Linked DNA regions of Homo sapiens: all the other regions are linked to region 2. The links come from fine-mapping of genetic effects on gene expression. A gene starts in region 2. Each other region holds a variant in brackets. All regions are shown on one strand. Distances are from middle to middle. Region 1 overlaps EVC (EvC ciliary complex subunit 1). Region 2 holds the start of CRMP1 (collapsin response mediator protein 1). Region 3 overlaps EVC (EvC ciliary complex subunit 1).

The links. PIP is the estimated chance that this variant, and not a neighbour inherited with it, causes the effect.
Region 1: its variant is the best candidate, but not a certain one, in a credible set for the expression of CRMP1 in fibroblasts (GTEx, PIP 0.55).
Region 3: its variant is the best candidate, but not a certain one, in a credible set for the expression of CRMP1 in liver (GTEx, PIP 0.71).

The regions. Positions count from the first base shown.
Region 1 is chr4:5,754,984-5,759,983 of GRCh38, reverse strand. It overlaps EVC (EvC ciliary complex subunit 1), which reads right to left. Exons shown (of 21, transcript NM_153717.3): 11 at 3,622-3,720. Among named protein-coding and RNA genes, the nearest start is that of EVC, 46 kb to the right of the region's middle. RefSeq lists enhancers at 665-714, 383-1,582. The variant A/G (reference allele first, on the strand shown) is at 2,842.
Region 2 is chr4:5,890,536-5,895,881 of GRCh38, reverse strand. CRMP1 (collapsin response mediator protein 1) reads left to right here and starts at 2,796. Exons shown (of 14, transcript NM_001014809.3): 1 at 2,796-3,293. The coding sequence starts at 2,913. RefSeq lists enhancers at 4,191-4,934, 4,935-5,346.
Region 3 is chr4:5,714,896-5,719,895 of GRCh38, reverse strand. EVC (EvC ciliary complex subunit 1) reads right to left here. Exons shown (of 21, transcript NM_153717.3): 2 at 523-648. Among named protein-coding and RNA genes, the nearest start is that of EVC, 6.2 kb to the right of the region's middle. RefSeq lists a silencer at 343-472. The variant C/T (reference allele first, on the strand shown) is at 2,349.

The sequences.
Region 1 (5,000 bases), 140 kb after region 2:
TTCCTGTCTTTGCTTCAAGTTGTCCCACCTTTCCTGACCGAACCAATGTACTTCTTACATGTACCGATTGATGTCTCCTGTCTCCCTAAAATGTATAAAACCACGCTGTGTCCGGACCCCCTTGGGCGCGTGTCGTCAGGACGCGCCCTCCTGAGGCTGTGTCCCAGGCTCGCGCAGCCTCAACCTTGGCAAAATAAACTTTCTAAATGAACTGAGACCCGTCTCAGATGTTCTGGGTTTACATTTATATACTGCTTGGCTTACCCTTTGCAGCAATCATTGATAGGGTTTTACTCAGGCTGTCAGCCTGGTTGTGTAATTGTGAGCAAGTGATCTAACCTGTACCTCAATTTCCTTAATCTTGATGACATTCTGATGCACAGCAAGGTTTGAGAACTGCTTTAGAGAGGATGGGTGAGAATCCAATAAGCTACCATAGGGGGTGAGGAGGAGAATGCTGCTGAAACCACCCCCGCCGCCCATAGCCTCTGGGCCACCTGGGCTCACCTCCGGCAGGGGAAATAAGTGGCCCGGCTGGGAATTTGAACCCCAGATGTCTGGCTCCAGAGCCTGGGCTTCACCATTATGCTCCACAGCCCACACGTAAGGCAGGATAGGTAGTCAAGGAAGTGACCATGTCCTTGGGATGCGGCGACCAAACCATCAACACAGTAAGCCTCAGCATTTACACTGTAGTCTGGCTCTTTCAAGCAGTTATCTGCAGTAGGCAACGTCTCCTGCAGTCGGCAGGTGCACTTTGATTTTATCTGTCCTCAGACTGACCCTCTGCGCCATTATAATAGTAAAAAACACACCTTTGGACGGAGACTTAAGATGCTAATGAGACATGTGACGTATGAACAAGTGTGTACAGCTACTGTGCCTGGGCACTCAGAGGACCCGCCCCCACCGCCCTCCACAACATGCTTACTAATAATGCTTCTTCCCACGCCCTTATGAATAATCACATAAGACTCCCCAGAAAGGGAGTTTCCCCGGTAAGTCAAGGCTGTCTCATCTGCTCTGAATCATCTCCCAGGGCATCCTGTCTATTCTGCACCTAACTTTCAGAACATTCTTTCTCCTTTGCAATAAATTGCTCTGTGCTGCATCCCCTTTACTGTGGTCTCTTGTTTACATACTTTTAAACTAAAAACACAAGAAGCGAGGTTTCACAACAGCCGTCAACACTGAGCAGCATGGTTGGGGTGAGCACATCAGCACTAACATTAGAAAGCCTTTATTTTAAATCTCACCTTCCCCGCTTGCTAGCTGTGTAAAACCTGGGCAAGATACATGGGCCAGCACAGACAGGTTATGTAACCAGCCAAGGTCACACAGCATGTTAGCACTCAGAGGAAGATTAGAACTTGGTTTCCCCATGCCCAGCCAGGGATGTGAGTCTTGACTCCTCTGGGGACAAAGTTGTTCCTTTCCTGTCTGTGGGCCCCAGGGCTTTGACAAATTGAGCCCCATCCTACCCATTTCTGGAGAAAACACTTCTTCACTCCTCATCTGGGAAGGAAGGAAAATGCAGTGTCTTCCTCATGAATCTCATGAGAATTAAATAATCAAATACTCAAGAGGCACTTAAGATAGGAGCTAGCCCTGAACAAAGATCGCCTTCCGTTTAGTTTCCTGTGGCTGCCATGACAAAGCGCCGCAAACTGGGTGCATTAAGACAACGAAGTTTATTCTCTCACCGTTCCGGAGGGCATTAGTATGAAACCAAGGTGTTGGCAGAGCCTCGCCCCCTCCAAAGGCTCTGGGAGGGGCCCTTCCTGGGCTCTTCTGGCTTTTGGTGGCTGCAGGTGTTCCTCGGCTTGTGGCTGCATCACTCCAGTCCCTCCTTCTGTCTTCAAACAGCCTCCTTCCCTGTGTCTCTATGTCTTCTCATGGCCTTCTTATAAGGACACCAGCCATTAGAATTAGGGCCCACCCGAATCCAGTAGGACCTAACCAACTGTGCGATCTAACCAATTACATCTGCAAAGCCCTTATTTCCAAGTGTGGCCACATTCCGAGGTTCCAGATGGACATGACGTTTTGAAGGACACTGTTTGGACTAAATTGTGTCTCCCTCCAAAATTCTTAGGTTGAAGCCCTAACCTCCAATATCCCATGTGACTGTATTTGGAGGTAATTAAGTAATCAAATTCTTATGTTGAAGCTCTAACCTCCAATATCCCATGTGGCTGTATTTGGAGACAGGGCCTTTAAGGAGGTAATTAAGGTTAGATGAGGTCATCAGGGTGGGGCCCTAATCCCATAGAACTGGTGTCCTTATAAGAAAAGGGAGAGACCAGAGCCCTCTCTTTCATTCTCTCCCCTGCCCTTCAGTCTTCCAAGCACAGAGAAATAACCGTGTGAGGAGGCAACGGGAAGGCAGCTGTCTGCAAGCCCGGAAGAGAGGCCTCACCAGAAGTCAATCCTGTTGGCACCGTGATCTCGGGCTTCAGCCTCCAGAACCTTGAGAGAACGCTTTTCTGTTGTTTAACCCACCAGTCAGTGGTATTCACCACGGCAGCCCTAGCAGGTTAACAGAGACATGACTGACCCCAGTGCAGCTCCCATCCGGGTGAGGAGTTGCACTTCCCACCACTGCATGAGCTTCTCCCTGATGGGGATGCCCGCTGACTCCTTGTCCACTTGGGCCTGGTCTCATCCAATGCTTGGCTCAGCAATGCCTCCTACAGGCTGCTGTCCTTGACGTCACCTTCACCCAGGAGCCCCTTGCCTCTCCTCTGCACTCAGAAGCAGGGAAGCTGTCACTGGAGACAACGTGCCCTGGGGTGTTCCGAGTGCCAGCTGCTGTCTCGGGTCCCCAAACACAGTCCTCCT[A/G]GCACACCATGAAGAAGAATTATGACTGTCCCCATTTCACAGATGGGGAAACTGAGGGCTAGAGGCCAAGTGATGCTCCTGTGGTCACGCAGTGAGGAAGCGGGGAGCCAGGACACAGACCCAGGCCCTCTCCTCCTCCCAGTGCTGCCCAACACCCACTGGTTGATTCCTTCATAGCCAGGTGTCCACACTCCTGTCTTTCCAACAACTGAGGATGCTGCCTGAGGCAGGGGCTCTGTCTGGCTCAGCATGGCATCCTGTGACTCCTGCCCCTAAAGAGGGCTCAGGTGCCCTCTCCTGCTCTCTGAAAGTCACCCTGCAGGGCAAGCATGGCCAGCTTCACCTCCCCACCCCAGACCTGCACACGGTTGCACAGGGGAAAGAGGTGGTGTGGCATGTGATCTCTGACGTCCCCATTTCAGCCCAGAACCCCTTCTTCATCACCACTTTACACTGATGACACCCAGAAACCCTGGGCCTATTTCTCACCTGGGGAGAACGGATTTCCAAAGAGCTTTGCTGACAGGGATGTGTGGAGATAAGAATCCTCAGCACCCCAAAAATGGACGGTGCCTCAGAGAGGACCAAGGCCAACTGCCTCGGTTTCTGATGTGGGCAAGGAGGATCGCATGGAGGGGACACAGCCTGCGTGGATCACCGGCCAATGAGTGCGGGGTTGGACCTGAACCACCTCTGGGGTCCCCAGCCAGGAGGATGTGAGGTTCTCGCACACACACAGACCCTGGGGCTTCTCTGCTGGTCCCCACAGAGGCCATGTACCTGGCAGAGTGCAACCACAGCCTCGGTGGCTCTGACATTCTCCTCTTCCTCCAGGTCACACTGCATCAGCCTCTGCCTCTCCAGGACCTCATGAAAAGCCTGTGAGGAAAACAAGAGCTGAGTCTGGTAGAAACATGCAGGGTTTTTTTTTTTTTTTCCAGAAGGTTCTCCAACCATCCCCTGCATCTCAGGTTAGAAAGAAGGATGTTGGCACCTGTATTACACACAAGGAAACTGAGGCATGGGGCTGTCACATGGCTTTCACAGCTGATGCCAGGGTCAGCAAATCCGATTTCCAGGAAACACCACAAACCACCACGCTTTTGTTAAAGCCAGGATGAGGAGGGGCCACTGGACCACTTCTGTCACTCCTCTGTCCTGGCTGCAGCCACCCAGACATCACTTTCTGACCACCCAGGCCATGGAAGACCCACTGATGGGAACCCAGCAGGGGTGACACAGACTGGCGATTGGAGGTCAGTGCAGTCAGCAACCAGCCAGGCCCCACTGTGACCACGGGGTGGAGGCCCTTCCCTGAGGACCCCAGCAGAGCAGCAGGAGACTGGGCTAACCCGGGCATCAGCAGGGGGAGACCCAGCCAGCCCTAAACAGAGCATCAGCGAGGGGCGAGGTGGGGCAGAAGGACAGAGGAACAGACCCTTCTCAGGGAAGGGTTGCAGGAGAAAATTCCCTGTTGGGGAGATGTTTCAATGGAGTCTCTAAGGACAAGGAAGGACTCCTTGGAGGGAAGATGGGGAGCCAGGCTCAGCGAGCAGCAGCAGAGACCAGGAGGTAAACCCCCTAAGATCTTTGGTGATGCTACGGGCAGGAGGTGAGATGAGAGAGAAGGGCGGGACTGGAAAAAGGTGGGTGCTGAGTGTGTACTGGGAGCCTGGTGTCGTTCGTTCATTCTCCCACCCATTCCATCCTCCTTCATTCGCTCGTTTGCCCATTTGTCCATGTCCTGGTTCATTCAGGCACGCATGCGCTCATTCACCCTTCCCTGCCTGCGTCCCACGTGTCCTGAACGCCAGCGCTGAGGCGTTCCGAGGACTGTACCGAGGCCCTGGGACACCAAGGTCACCCAGGCACTGTCTCCACACTCTGGACTCACACTGGGCTCTGTGACATCAAGGACAGGGGCCCAGAAATATCCAAATAACGAGGAGCTGAATAGCCTTATCTTCCTCTTATTTCAAATGGGTCTCAAAGATAGAAAAACCTACCCTACCCCTTTGTGGCAAATGCAGAAGCTCCAAGTATGGGCCTGGAAGAGGCCCCCTGGGTGAGGGAGGCAGCTGGACCAGGGACCTAGAGGCCTGTCCTCTGTTCTCGGGGGACCCCTCCATTGGCTTCTCACTGCAGTGGTGCCACCACCA
Region 2 (5,346 bases):
ACTCAACCACCTAGACTCTTCTGCCTAAACTAGGTCCCTTTATCTCTTATCTCCCAGTGGGACCACCTCAGTCAGGCTCTTGGGGAGAGGAAAGGGTAGTTGTTTCGATGTGGACTCTGGCACCAGACTACTCTGTTTAAACCTCGAAGTCTTACTTGCCAGCTGTGACCCTGGACAGGTTATTTATGTCTCTGAACCTCAGTTTTCTCATCTGTAAAATGAGGCTAAAATGGCAGTTTCAAGGTTGCTGCGAGGCATAAAAGAGTTACTATCTGTTAGGTGCTTACCATGGTCCGGGCACGTAGTAAACTTTCTATAAGCAGAAGCTATGAAGATCCTTTCCTGCTTCTGCATAAAGACAGCACTTTCTCAGCTCCTTCCTTGCGTCACTCCCTCTAGTCTTGGCAACTGCCCAGCCCTTTCTCACAATGGAAAGGGTTTTCTTTAGAAGCAGTAAGATTTCCATCACCACCAACAAAGCCTGAGAGACTGTGTCCTCAAGATGTTGAGAGCAGATTCAAGCATGCAGTAGGAGGCCTGGCCTCCAAAGTTCCACCTAACTCAGACTTTTGAGTTTTCTGATATTTCTCTGGGTTATGTCACCCTGAACATTTGTGGGGTTTTAGAAGAAATTTCTATGTGGTTTTCGACATGAATTGTTCTTGCCTGGAATGGGCTGGGAATAGTATTTCACAGGACAGAGAAAAATTTTCATTGAAAAATCGAAAACACTTGCAAGATAGCCTGGAGGCTGATGGGCCTCAAGAGGAGTGTCTGTGGCAAATCTGCACAGTGGACCCAGGGACACAAGGAGAGAGGAGCCAGGATGCAGCTGCGGTGGGTGGAAGGTAGATGGAGGCTGTGTGTGGAACTTTCTGTTCTCGCATTCAGCACTCTCTCCCCCATGAGAGTAAACACTTGTTGAAGACAGAGACTTAGAAATACTCATCTGTGTCCCCACACTAGCCTCTCTCTCAAGCACAGAAAAATAACTTGCTAAATGCCCACCGAGTGGATGAGCCCACGCTCTAGGCCTGGCTGAACCTCCTTGAGATTGAGGCCCTGAGGGAGCCATTTCACATCTCCCCTCCTGTTTCCTCTTCCAAGAGGGGGCCGGTAAAAATACCTACCTGCTGCACAGACCCCTTGTTGCAGGGTTGAAAGACAGTAGCTTCAGGGAGGTGTCAGCTGAGGCCACGGATCCGACGGCCCCAGGATCCTCAGTCCATGGGGCCCAAGAGTCATAAAACAAGAACATGAATCCATCTGTCTGTCTGGTATTCCTGGAGCTTGGTCACGCTGCGGGAGCTCTGGCTTGCAGCTGGCAGGGCCCGGGGTTGAAGGGACAGCTCCCAGCATGGAAGGCTATGGGTGGGGGGACATTGCAAGAAGCACTGATGCTCCCCTCTGCAGTCCCCACCCAGTCCTGACTTTGCTTGTCTAGACTGGCTCGAGGAGGGGGTCGGCAGCTGGCGATTCTGCCTCTCCAGGAAGTGCAGCTGGGACTGTAGGGTCCCCAGGGACTTGCAGGATCCTCTGCCTGATAATCGTGGAGAAATAAGGGAAGGTGTCTATAGGAGGCAGGTGGTGCCTGGCCTTAGAGGAGAGCCCCAGCAGAGCGACCTCCACGACAGAGAAACCCCAGAACGCCCAGACTGCAAGCTCCAGGAGCAACAAAAGTGGACTGTGCCCCTCGAATGAGGGAATATCTGTCTGTCTGGTTGACTGCCAGCTGTGTGTGTGTGGTCATCTCTGTCTCTGTGTGTCTTTCTCTGGAGCGTTTTTATTTAAGCTTTTGACTTCCTTTATTACTGGTGTGGACTTGTGTGTGGGCATCCTGTTGCCAGTTTATGATGCACATGTGTGGAATCGCCCTGAGCTTGCCTTTGATATTGGTGTGTTGTGTGGTGTCATTGGCGTGCACGTGTATGTGTGTGTCGCTGATTCTCATGCAAGAATGTGCTTCTCTTATGTGTCTGTCGGAGTGTGCCTCTAGCATGTCCCTCTTGGCTGCTGCACCACCTTTCCTGGCCCTTACCACCTCTTGGCCCACCATATGGGTGCTTTTGTATCCAATTCCCCTCCTTAGCAGGTCAGCTCCTGGAGGGCAGGCACTTGGTCTCTTTTGTCCATGGCTCTGTTCCCAGCTCCTACAACAGTGCTAGGCACTAGTGGGCGCTCAGCAAAATAAAACTGACGGAATGAACGGTGTGTCCAACGCATGTGCCTCTCCAGTTGTGCAATTAATCTTGGTGTGATACTGTGTGTGAGTGGGGTTGTGAGACAATGAGGATTTCTGTTGTGTGTTTGTAATGAACTCGGAATGTGCACAAGCATATATGTGTATGTGTGTGCAACATTGAGTATGGTGTGCATGATCGAGCCCCTGTGTATCTCTGGAGAGCATGTGTGATTGACTCTCGTGTGTGTGCCAGCATGTCTGTGCATCTCTCATGTGTTTGGCGTAATTGTCTGGTGTGCAGGTATGAACCCGCGTGTGCCTCCAGAGCGTGTGGGCGCGCGAGTGTACGCACACGGCTCCTGCCCCGCGCTCTCCTCGCGCCCTGCGCTCCGCCTGGGGGCGGAGAGTGGGGGGTGCGGCGAGGGCACTGCGGTGCCGCGGCCCGCCCTCCGCGCTGCGGCTCGGGAGCGTCACCGTCCCTCCCCGCCCCAGCCGCGATCCCCGCCTCCTGGTCCTTTGTAGCTGGCCGCGCCGCTAGCCCGCAGCCGCCCAGAGGCCCCGCCCCGGCCCCGCCCCGGCGCGCGCCACGCCCCGCCCCTCCCCTCCCTGGGCCGCAGTCGCGCCCGGGCCGCCGCAGGCCCGCACCGAGGCGCGGAGCGCGGCGCACGGCGGTGCCCAGGGCCGCGGGCGGGCAGGCGGGAGCGCGGTGGGTGGCCGGCCTTGGACGGGTATGGCGGACCGGCGGCGCGCGTGGAACACCGAGGACGACCTGCCCGTGTACCTGGCGCGGCCGGGCAGCGCGGCGCAGACCCCGCGCCAGAAGTACGGCGGCATGTTCGCCGCGGTGGAGGGCGCCTACGAGAACAAGACCATCGACTTCGACGCCTACAGTGTGGGCCGCCGCGGCTCGGCGCGCACGCCGCGCAGCGCTGGCCGGCCCGACGCGGTCGGGCTGCCAGGGCCGGGAGGCAGCGAGGACACGGCCAGCGACGTGAGCGAGCCCTCGGGCTCCGCGGTCAGCTCTCCCGGAGAGCGCGACGAGCGGCCGCCGACGCTGCGCATCCGCCGCCCCGCGCCCCGCGACCTGCCCCTCGGCCGGGACAATGGCCAGGTACCCTCGGGGCGCGCGCGGGCCAGACGAGGGGGGCGGGCCCCGGGAGGACCCAGGGCATGGGGCGCCCGAGGGCCATGCCCGGGCCCCGGTGTTGGGGCAGCGGCCGCCAGGCTGGGGAGAGCCACGGCGCGGCCCCTCCCCCACCTCATCATGCAAGAGGTTCCCAGAGCTGGGGCGACTCGGTCGGGGCTGGCCGGCGTGGTCCGTGAGACTCGGAAGGGATCGCCCGGGTCCAGTCCCGGCTCCTCTTCTACAGAAAGGGAGAGAGGTTCTGAGAGGGGAAGTTGGCTAAAGCTACCGCATGGACGCTTAAACGCGAAGGAACCTCTGGGATGAATCTAACCCAGGCCCCTCATTCTGTTTTGTGAAAAGAACTGGAGCTCCGTTCCGTGTTGGTCCATTCATCCATCCACTCAGTCGGTAGTAATTATAGAGCACCTACTGTGTGCCGGGCCCCGGGAGAGGTTCCGCGAGTCGCCTGCGGCCACACAGCTTAAAGCTGGAAGGAGCTTTTTTTCCGAGCGCTCCCCTCATGCTTGCTGGGGGGAAGGATTTGGTTAAGGATTTAGTTCGTCGGGCAGTTGGAGCCGTAAACCCCTACCCTCAAGCGCCAGTAGATTCAAGGGGCACTCCTGAGCTCCACAGCACACACCGATGTGCCTGCTTCACAGAGCAAGGTGGAGGTAGAGCTGGGATTTGAACTGGGGTCTCTGGCCTCCCGGACCTGAGCATGGGGCCGGGAGGATCAGGGAGAGGGAACGCTAGGGCTTGGGCCCTGCGGGTATTCTCTCTTGAGCTGGGGGTCACCAGGAAACTGGGGGAAGAAGGGCGGATGGACGGCGTAGCCTTTGGATGGACCGACGAGAGCCAGGGTCAGGTGCCAGAAAAACGGAAGTTGGAGCATCCGAGGGCTGGGGAGCTTTCGAATTGGTCCAGACCTGGATGCCGGAGAACTGCTAGGTGCCAGGCCCAGGGTAGGCGCTAGGTCCCTGGCTCAGCAACCTGGCCCCACCCTCCAGAAGTTCCCAGGCTAGGGTGAGCGACGGATTCATTGTGAGAATTAAATCAGTTAATGCCGGTCGGTAGTGAGCATTCAATAAATGTTTGTTGTTGACTTTTATTACAATCATTATCATTTTAATTAAACCTTCCCCTCTTAAATGCTATGAGTGACCCAAAGTGAGCCTGGAGGGAAGCAGAGCTTGATCGGGGCAGATATCTGGGAGGGCTTCCTGGAGGAATAGGAGCAGGGAACTGGTAAACACGGTGGTGGGCCTCTTCGGGCCCCATCCCTTCGCGGGCGGGCTGTTGCTCCAGAGCTCTCCGTGGTCCTGAAGCCGGAGCCTCGCGAGGGAGAGGTCCAACAGCAAGGGTGTGTGTGTGTGTGTGTGTGTGTGTGTGTGTGTGTGTATGTGTGTGTGGTGGTGGGGTGATCAGAAAGGGAGATGGTGCGAGAGTCCAGCTTCCTCTTCCCCCACCCCTTCTGTATCTCCCCCTGTCCACTACCTTCCCTGGTGGTCCGACCTCTCTTGGGATCCAAACTCCCGAGCCCGATGGGGAGGCTTCTGGGCCGCGGGCCGAGAAGCGGGACCAGCACCAGGGAATCCGGGTTTCCAGCCAAGGCGCTTTGCTCTCTTGGGCCTCAGCTTCTCCATCTGTCAGATGGGGGTGGCCGTCTTCTTCCGGCCTTCCTCAAAGCGTGGTGGAGTACTAGGGAGGCGAGGGCGCTTTGTGCACGGCCCGTAGCTGTCCCAAGGAGAGTTCCTCTGGAACTGCGGTCAATGTCACCAACGCCAGCATCTCCCCCAGGGCGCAGCCTGGGCCAGCCCCGCAGCTGCGCCCTGACCCTTGGGGACGCTGGTCGCTTCACCTCTCCCGTTCCTCTCCCCTACTCCTTCCTCTTCTCCCTGTGGTCCCCTCTGCCTTTCTCCATGGCTTCTCAGGCACCGGACAAAAGGCAGCGCCTCTGGCGCTCCCGGGGCTCCGAAAGCACTCGAGCTTCGCGACTGTGGAACTCAGGGGCTCGCGATCTCCACGGAGGGAGGGTTTT
Region 3 (5,000 bases), 180 kb after region 2:
TCTGCCAATGAAATACACACAAACAGTGAGCAATCAACAAAGTGTGGCACATCCACACAGTTGACTGCCACTGAGCAATAAAAATGGGTGAATTATTGATACACACAACGAAAGGGAAACATCTTAAGGCATTCTGTGGAGGGAACACAGGCACAGAACAGCACAATTCCATTTGCATAAGGTTCCAGAACTGCAGAACCAATCAATGGAAATCCCACGCATGGGCACCTCTGGAAGTGTGTGGGGGCGGGAAGTGACCAGAAAGGGGCACTAGAGGACTTGCTGGGTGATGAAAACATTCTCAGGGGGGTATTTGTTCTAAGGGGCATGCAATTGTCAAAACTCATCAAACTGTAAAACCTAAAGTCTGCGCATTTGACTGTATGTAAATTATGCCTCAGAAAAGCAGCCCATTGGGAAACTATATCTGTCAGAGGCTTGTCTACATGACACCCGGCTTCCAGGGGGAATACCCCACCTCCCACATGTGCCTCCACAAACAAACATCAACACCAAGCTTACATCAACAGCTTCCTTGTCCTTCGACATCTGCACTTCTCTCTTCCTCCTCCTTGATGGGGAGCCAGTTTCCGAGGGGGTCTGCGCATTAGACTCCAAATTCTTGAGCAGATTTTGAGTGTCGTCTTTCTAAAACCCGAAGGTCAGGAGTTGGGGGTGGATAGAAACACAACATTGAGGTCAGTCGGCCTGGTCCCCACCGTGACTTTTGCCAGTCAACTCCCCCAGTCCAGCAGCCACTTCTGCTCGCCTCTGTGCTTCTCAAGCTTGGTCTTCTGTGTGTGACGCCTCCCACCCCACGTGGGGTCCGCTACATGTCCTTCAAGACTGCACAGGTCACCTTCCTGAGCGGTTCCCCTAAGGCCTCCAGGATGCCCCATTTCAGTGCACCCTCAGGACTTGAGGCAAGAGGCAGAGCAAAGCTCGTTCCATTTTTCTTCTAGGTTGGGGACCCCATTGGACTGGGAGCTCTTTGGATTTAACAACTAAGCATGAGAAATGGCACATGCATATAATTTTCCTGTTGATCTTGATCATTCTATTGAATGGTTTTTAAGACAATATGTTAGGTGACCTTAAGTTATAGAGTAGTTTCTATTCTGAACTACAATGAATGCTCATTATTTATGGATTCTGTATTTGCCAATTCCTGTACTTGCTAATATTTATTTAGAACCCCCAAACCAATGCTCATGGCGCTTTTACAGTTATTCACAAATACATGCAGAGCATGAACAATCTGAGTTGCCCAGCATGCACGTGCTCAGTTGAGATGGAACAAAGTAGCACTCTGCCTTCTTGTCTCTGCTCTCATGCTGTAAACAAACATCCTTTTCATACTCTAGTAGCACAGTTTTTGCATTTCTGTGCTTTTTCTCGGTGACTTTACTGTTTAAAATAACCACCAAACACAGTGCAGAAGTGCTGTCTAGTCTCCCGAAACACAAGAAAACTATGACATGCCCTCTGGAGAAATGGGTGTGTTACAGAAGCTTCATTCAGGTGTGAGTTACAGAGCTGATGTCTGTGAGTCCAATGTTAATAAATTAAAAATATCTATTAAATAAGATATCTTTAAACAGAAACATACATAAAACTATGCTATGTATTGACTGGTTAATGGAAATGTTGTGACCAGAGGCTTGTAGGAACCTAACCCTGTTTTCCCCCCAGGAACAACGGTTCAGTGTTCGCTAATGCTGTGTTCTCAGTGAGTTTACAGAACATAACTACCATGAATAAGGAGAGTAGACTATATTTAAAACTCTGTTATCCCAGACACTTCTCAACTTCCCCTTTAATCACTACCTGCTCATGAATATAATCTTTGCACTAAAGAAACATCACCAGTTTGTCACTGAGTTAATCAGCTACTATTATCGAGCATCTGCTTTGTGTCAGGCCTTGTTCTAGGTACTGGGAATAGAGTAACGAACAAAATACACAGCCTCTGCTTTTGTGGCATTGACATTGCAGTGAGAGAAGAAAGAGGCAAACAAATGAAAAAATACATAGCAATTCAGGGACAATCATGTCCTAGAGTAACAGTGGAGGGTGGGGGAATGAAGGATGATGGGAGACAAAGTCTCTTGGACAAAGCGGCATTTGAGAAGGAACTTAAAAGAAGTGAGGCCATGAGCCATTGAGATATCTCAGGGAGGAGCATTCTAGAGACAGAATAGCAAGTGCAAAGGCCTTGGAGGCAGGCCCATGCTGGGCATAGAGAGAAACCTGTGTAGATGCAGCAGTCTGTCGTGGGTCTTGGGGTGGATGATGAAGCCAGAGATTTGGGGGGTTGTTTACCAACCATAGCAGACCAGTACAAGGGT[C/T]CTGCAAAGAAGAACCCAGTCAGATAGTCCTACAGTAAAGACATTGAGGAAAAAATATATATATCCCACAGAGGGAGCATCAGCATCACTTGAAAATGTCTAGAGGGTCACTAGCCATTTGAGGACAGACTCTAATATGAAAGATAAAATCCAAAACAAACAAAAGGAAAAAGCAAGCAGGGAACGCACTACACAGGGAAAAAAAACTTTAAACAAATAAACAACTAAAATATTATCAGAGAGATCAGAGAAGGTATTCCATTCATAAAATAAGGACAGGATAGAACATTCTCAGAACAAAAAAATGACTCTTCAAAATTGAAAATATGAAAAACTCAATACAAGTATAAAGTTGAGAAACATCTCTCCAAAGATAATGTAAAAAAGACAAAGAGAATCGAAGTGAGAGAGAAAGACTAAGATTGGAAGCCCAATTCAACCTAAAAAAGTGATAGGAGTTCTTGGAAGAAGAAAACGTATAAAAGGAAAAGAATCATCAAAGAAATCAAGAAAATGATTCTCGATCAAAAGGACGTTCCAAATGCCTGGCACCGTGGATGACAAATGACTTTCACCAACACCATCGTGGTGCAATTTCATTTACTAGGAGCAAAGGTAAAGGTTCTTTAAGATTCTACAGAGGAACAAAAGGAAAAGAGGTTTCGTGTAAGGTATCAAGGATCAGAATAGAATCAGTTTTCTCAACAGCAACCATGGAAATTATGAGATGAAGCAGAGTCCCCCCTTTTTAAGGGCCTGCAAATCCCTTGCCCTAAGCCTGGAAATAAAGGAAAATCCTGACTTTCTTCAAGGGAAATTATCAACAACTTGATAAGCAAGAAGGTAATAGTCGCCTAAAACAATAGCCAAGGAAGTTAGAGTCAGGAGATGTTTGGTTTCCCTGCAGAAACTAAAGATAACATCTTAACATATGTCCCTGAGTTGTTTTTCAGAAACCTGGACCCCCATCCAATGGATCCACTCTGAGGATCCATGGCTGAGGTCCTCAGCTGCCCCTTATCTGAGATCTGAACTCTGAGCACCATTCTTTGTTCTAAAGCTCTTCCTGGGGAGCCCAGAGGAAGTCATGACCAGGAGCCTGAGCTAAGGTTCTTTTCTGCCGAACCTACATTTTAAAACAAAGCTTCTCTTCCTTCACAAAATTGCAAATCAGAAAATCTTTGAATCTACCTCTGACCTGCAAGCCTCCACTTCAAGATGTCTGGCCCTTTTAGGCCAAAACCAGTTGTCACCTTCATGTATTGATTTACAATTTTGCCTGTAACTTCTGCTTTCCTGAAATTTACCTCTACCTTTAAAAACCTCACCTGGAAGTCATCAGGGCAGTCAGGATTTGAGCATGAGCTGCCTAGTCCTCCTGGCTTGGTGCACTGTGAATAAACACCTCCCTTTTTACCACTATAAAACCTCAGTGTCGCTATCTGGTCTTACTGTGCCAGGTGAGTGGAACCCAGTTTGGTTCTACAACAGCTAGAAGACAATGGAGGCCGGGTACAGTAGCTCACGCCTGTAATCCCAGCACTCTGGGAGGCCGAGGCAGGTGGATCACGAGCTCAGGAGTTCGAGACCAGACTGGCCAACATGGTGAAACCCCATCTCTACTAAAAATACAAAAATTAGCTGGGCATGGTGGCGCATGCCTGTAGTCCCAGCTACTCAGGAGGCTGAGGCAGAAGAATTGCTTGAACCCAGGAAGTGGAGGTTGCAGTGAGCCGAGATTGCACTACTGCACTCCAGCCTGGGTGACAGAGCAAGACTCTATCTCAAAAAAAAAAAAAAAAAAAAAGACAATGGAAAAATGCCTTCGAAATTCTGGAGGAAAATTATTCCCAATCTAATTATTCTTACCAAATTAAGTATAAAGATAGAAGAATATATTTTCAGACATAGAAGTTCTCAAAAGAGTTGCATCCATCCCTTTTTGAAAAAGCTACTGAAGGATGTGCTCCAGGCATGCAATGAAATTACCTAACAAAAGGGGAGTGCCAGGGAATCCCTGAAACAGGATTCAACCCAGAAGAGACGTGAGAAACTCCCAGCATGATGAGTAGCTGCTTCTCAAACTTTAAGAACATGTAAATCACCAGGAGGGCTTATTAAACACAGCTTGCTGGACTCATCCCTAGAGATTCTCCTTCAGTGAGTCTGGGGTAGAGCCCAAGAATATGCATTTCTATCAAGCTCCCCAAGATATTGATGCTGCTGGTCTGGTCCACACTTTAGAGAGCTGTCTAGAGAATAACCAGCTCAAACTAGAGCTTGTCAGAATGTTTCTGGGAGAGATATTTTTCTCAAGAAGATAAAATGGATCAAATATCTAATGCATTCAAATGTCTTGAACACAAACGCACATATGTGGGGGAGAGTTAAATGAATGATAAGTACACAGAATCTAAGCAAATGAAAAAACCAAGGCCAGATGTGGTGGCTCACACCTGTGATCTTGGCACTTTGGGAGGTGAAAGCAGGAAGACTGCTTGAGCCCAGGAGTTTGAGACCAGCCTGGGCAACATGGCAAAACTCTAACTCTACAGAAAATAGAAAAAAAAAAAAAATTAGCCAGGCATGGTGGTGCAAGCCTGTAGTCCCAGCTACTTGGGAGGCTGAGGCGGGAGGATCACCTGAGCCCAA